2 separate regions of the Homo sapiens genome follow, and region 2 is linked to region 1. A link means that fine-mapping ties the variant in region 1 to the expression of a gene that starts in the linked region. Tissue or cell type: whole blood. Region 1 holds a variant in brackets; the other region holds the start of a gene. All regions are shown on one strand. Distances are from middle to middle.

Region 1 (2,756 bases):
GCCCGGCCGCCAATGGCCAATTTTTTAAATACAAAAATTAGCCAGGCGTGGTGGCAGGAGCCTGTAATTCAGTTATTCGGCAAGCTGAGTCAGGAGAGTCATTTGAAGCCAGGAGGCGGAAATTGCACTGAGCTGAGATCGTGCCACTGCACTCCAGCCTGGGTGACAGAGCGAGATTCTGTCTCAAAAAACAAATAAAATTTAAAAAAAAATAAATTTACAAAATAATGAGGCTGAGAGGCACTGAGGTCAGTCACAATGGAGATGGACCCTGCTCTAACTCTGTGTAACCATCTATAAAGTAAGTTAATAATAGTATCAAATATCTGAGATTGTTGTGAGGGTAGGATAAATGCTTGACTCCATAGTAAATACTCAAAAAGTATTAACCATTATGATTATCGTCATTATTCCCATCCTGCTCCATTAAAGCAGGATGTTTGGTTTGTTCACCATTGTATCCTCAGGCCTTAGAACAGTGCTGAGGACATGGTAGTGAGAGGTGACAGCGTGCTGGTAGTCCTCACAGCCCTCGTTCGCTCTCCGCGCCTCCTCTGCCTGGGCTCCCGCTTTGGCGGCACTTGAGGAGCCCTTCAGCCCACCGCTGCACTGCGGGAGCCCCTTTTTGGGCTGGCCAAGGCCGGAGCCGGCTCCCTCAGCTTGCAGGGAGGTGTGGAGGGAGAGGCGTGGGTGGGAACCGGGGCTGTGCGCGGTGCTTGCGGGCCAGTACGAGTTCCGGGTGGGTGTGGGCTTGGCGGGTCCGCACTCGGAGTAGCCGGCCGACCCTACCAGCCCCGGGCAATGAGGGGCTTAACACCCCGACCAGCGGCTGCAGAGGGTGTGCTGGGTCCCCCAGCAGTGCCGGCCCACTGGCGCTGCGCTCGATTTCTCGCCCGGCTTTAACTGCCTCCCCGCGGGGCAGGGCTCCGGACCTGCAGCCCGCCATGCCTGAGCCTCCCCAGCCACGCCGTGGGCTCCTGTGCCGCCAGAGCCTCCCCGACGAGCGCCGCTCCCTGCTCCACGGCGCCCAGTCCCATCGACCACCCAAGGGCTGAGGAGTGCGGGCGCAGGGCGCAGGACTGGCAAGCAGCTCCACCATGCAGCCCCAATGCGGGATCCACTGAGTGAAGCCAGCTGGGCTCCTGAGTCTGGTGGAGACGTGGAGAACCTTTATGTCCAGCTCAGGGATTGTAAATACACCAATGGGCACTCTGTATCTAGCTCAAGGTTTGTAAACACACCAATCAGCACCCTGTGTCTAGCTCAGCATTTGTGAGTGCACCAATCCACACTCTGTATCTAGCTACTCTGGTGGGGCCTTGGAGAACCTTTGTGTCGATACTCTGTATCTAACTAATCTGGTGGGGACGTGGAGAACCTTTGTGTCTAGCTCAGGGATTGTAAACACACCAATCAGCGCCCTGTCAAAACAGACCACTCAGCTCTACCAATCAACAGGATGTGGGTGGGGCCAGATAAGAGAATAAAAGCAGGTTGCGGAGCCAGCAGCGGCAACCTGCTAGGATCCCCTGTGGTATTGGGGAGGTCTTGTTATCTCGCTCTTGGCAATAAATCTTGCTGCTGCTTACTCTTTAGGTCCCCACTCCTTTTATGAGCTGTAACGCTCACCGCAAAGGTCT[A/G]CAGCTTCTAGTCTTGACGCTAGCAAGACTAGGAGCCCACCGAGAGGAACCAACAACTCCCGACGCACTACCTTAAGAGCTGTAACTCTCACCGTGAAGGTCTGCAGCTTCACTCCTGAGCCAAGGAGACCACGAACCCACCAGAAGGAAGAAACTGAACACATCCGAACGTCAGAAGGAACAAACTCCAGACGCACCACCTTAAGAGCTGTAACACTCACGGCAAGGGTCCGTGGCTTCATTCTTGAAGTTAGTGAGACCAAGAACCCACCAATTCCGGACACAGTAGGTGGTTAAAAACAATTGATTGGCCAGGTGTGGTGGCCCACACCTATAATCCCAGCACTTTAGGAGGCCGAGGCAGGAAGATCACCTGAGGTCAGGAGTTCGAGACCAGCCTGGCCAACATGGTGAAATCCTCTCTCTACTAAAAATACAAAAATTAGTTGGGCATGGTGGTGGGTGCATGTAATCCCAGCTACTCAGGAGGCTGAGGCAGGAGAATCGCTGGAAGCCGGGAGGTGGAGGTTGCAGTGAGCTGGGATTGCACCACTGCACTCCAGCCTGAGCGACAGAGCGAGAGACTTTGTTTCAAAAAAAAAACCCAATTGGTTGAATGAATGAAGAGCAACCTTCTGCTCAGCTCTCGCCACCCACCTTCTCCTCACACTGTCTGCTTCCCTCAGTCTTCTCCCACTGGAGTCATTCTCCATCTACACTTGGCCCAGGTCTCATCCTCCTTCTCCCACTTCAATGCCTGCTGTTTCTTCTGTGAACCTAGGAGGCCTCCAGGGAGGTGATGAACTGCCTCTCACTGTTGCTGTTCTCAGCAATGCAGGTCCTGGGCTCTGCAGTGAAGTGGGAAGTAGGGATGCCTGCAACTGCGGGTTTGGTGGGGGCTCAAGAAAACAGTGTGCCCCCAAGGAGCTTAGAGGCCTTATGCTCCACCCTATACCTCCTAGGGCAGTATGGTTAGTAGAGGAGAGGTAGCTTCCAGGCTGCTCTGGCATCTCCTTGCCTGAGGAGCAAAGAAACTCAAGGAAGGTTTTTAGTAAAATGAAGCCCTCAGTGCAGCAGCAGACCCAAAAATCTGTACGTGGCCTCACCATCTGGGGT
Region 2 (2,500 bases), 73 kb before region 1:
AGAGATGGCAGTGAGCCGAGATCGCGCCACTGCTCTCCAGTCTGGGCGACAGACTGTGACTCCGTCACAAAAACAAAACAAAACAAAACAAAAAAAACTTCCCCCACGTCTGTTTACCATTATTACAAAAAGCTTGTATGATTGCTCACTGCATCTTCTCCATCCTCCAAGGAAACATCATCGCATTTAAACTCTGTCCTCCATTACGCAAACGAGAAAATAGAGGTTCAGAGGAGGAGACAAGTTGCCCAACTACCAAAATACAAATTCAAACCGGAGTCTTGGCTCTAAAGACTGTTTCCGTTATTTACGCTTTTAACACGCTCCATCTTTCTATCTTCCCCTCGGTGTACCATTTACTCTACCCAGAGGGAGACATCCATGCCTCCCGCTGCTTGTCACACCTCCCCCGTCTCAGAGTCCCCAGAAGTTAAAAGCAATCTCCACGAGCCCTATTTTGAGATAGAATATGTTCCCACACTGTGGATGGAAGCGAGAGATAACTGCAGGAAGCCGTTTTGGCGCCTCAACCATCCCTCGGTACCTCCTCCTGGTCCCCAGCCTCTCGGGCCTAGACTGCCCGTGACCCCCGCCAAAGTCTCGGGTCCCCCTTCCATATGGCCGGTCTCCGCCTCCCCGGGCCCGGGGAAGTCTCCAGGCTGTTTTTTTACCCTGCAGCGAGAAGGATGGTGTGGATATCCAACGGATGCTACCTCCCTTCAAAACTTAAGCCACCACCAACTCCAACATACTGGCGTCCGCCATTAGACCTCAAGACAGGGACATTCTGGTGGCGCGCGGCGGAAAAAGGCACCCAATCCGCGCCTGAAGAATATATATAATTTTTAAAAAATGCTTCCGTCTTGCTTCCACACGGCATTACAAATTATTTAAACATGCTTTATTGCTTTGCTTTTTCCAGGAGAATAGAAAATTAATACGTTTTTAGAAGTAGACTTTAAAAAAAAAAAACCATTAGAGTTCATTGGGCACTTCTGTGGGCAGCCCCAAATAGGCGCCAACGAAGAGGGGGCCTCGCGGGACCGGAAGTGCCGAATGGGGACCAAGATGGCGGACCTTGATTCGCCTCCGAAGCTGTCAGGGGTGCAGCAGCCGTCTGAGGGGGTGGGAGGTGGCCGCTGCTCCGAAATCTCCGCTGAGCTCATTCGCTCCCTGACAGAGCTGCAGGAGCTGGAGGCTGTATACGAACGGCTCTGCGGCGAGGAGGTGCGGGGTCGAGCCTCTTCTTTTTCATGGAGGATCTAGGGAGAGTGGGAGCCTTCAGTCGGGAAATCCGGGCTGTGGGAAACTCTCCTTGCTGGGGGATACAAAAAAGCGGGAAAACAAAGAAGCGGAAGCTAGTCGGGTATATGAGTAGTCCTGTCAACTCTTTTCACGCTGTCGGACGCGCCGAGCTTGTCTTCCCTGATACCTGGGCGATCTGCAGCCTCTCCTCCCTAGACCCCCGTTGATTTCCCTGATCCATGATCACCAGTTTCTCCACGGGAGTAAAGTTAGTCTGAGAGTATTTGCCAAATTGCTTGGTTCTCAAAATAATAAGCGCCCTTTTGCATTGGCTTAATTTACAAATTATGAAACGCTCTCATCCTGTTATTTAAGAGGGAAGCCTTTGCAGATTAACTTCTTGAAGCGTTTTAAGACTTCCTCTTGTGGGGAGTGATTTGGGGGTGTGATTTTAGCGTTTTGGTCAAATGCACATCTTTGTAGAGGTTTAGCTTTTAAGACTCAGACACAATTCTCTAATCTTGGACAAGTCACTTCATCTCTGGTACCCTTGATATTTTATCAAATGAGGGGTGTGGACTATTCTCCAATTCCTTTCAGTTCATAACGTTCTATTTCCTGCCTCCTTTAATTTTCAGTGGCAACTCGATGCTGTCAATTCACTTTCGAATGTCAGTTGGGTTCCTTGCTAGTCAAAAGAGATCTAAGCTCTAAGCTTGTCAGCTGTTTCCCAGACCAAACTTCTAGCAAAGTTGAGCACAAAAGGCAGTTTCAGCCTGAGGGAGAGGTGATCGTTGATATCTTTGAGTATTTTCAAGTATAAACTTGCACTAACTCTAGCAGTTTCTGATACGTTTTTCAGCAAGATGTGTGTGGTGTTTTTTGTTTTGTTTTGTTATTTTTAGAAACAGGGCCGCTCTCTGTTGCGCAGGCTGGAGTGCTGTTGTGCTGCAATCAGAATGGATGAAACCAGAGGCGCACACCACCGTGCCTGGCTAGTTTAGTGTGTGGGGCTTTTTTTGTCTGGCCTCAGCAAGATGTGTTTTAAAATTTAGTATCTTGCGGGGCGCGGTGGCTCACGCCTGCCATCCCAGCACTTTGGGAGGCCAAGACGGGAGGATCACCTGAGTCAGGAGTTCGAGACCAGCATGACCAAAATGGTGAAAACCATCACTACTAAAAATACAAAACTAGCCGGGTGTGGTGACGCATGCCTGTAATCCCAGCTACTCGGGAGGCTGAGGCAGGAGAATTG

The links. PIP is the estimated chance that this variant, and not a neighbour inherited with it, causes the effect.
Region 2: it holds the start of COG4, and the variant in region 1 is fine-mapped to the expression of COG4 in whole blood (GTEx, PIP above 0.99). The same link has a PIP of 0.9 or more in breast, lymphoblastoid cells, thyroid and transverse colon.

The regions. Positions count from the first base shown.
Region 1 is chr16:70,449,101-70,451,856 of GRCh38, reverse strand. No RefSeq gene overlaps it. Among named protein-coding and RNA genes, the nearest start is that of FCSK, 4.1 kb to the left of the region's middle. The variant A/G (reference allele first, on the strand shown) is at 1,641.
Region 2 is chr16:70,522,100-70,524,599 of GRCh38, reverse strand. It overlaps COG4 (component of oligomeric golgi complex 4), which reads left to right and starts at 1,046. Exons shown (of 19, transcript NM_015386.3): 1 at 1,046-1,227. The coding sequence starts at 1,057. It overlaps SF3B3 (splicing factor 3b subunit 3), which reads right to left and starts at 784. Exons shown (of 26, transcript NM_012426.5): 1 at 672-784. RefSeq lists enhancers at 1-240, 1,274-1,413.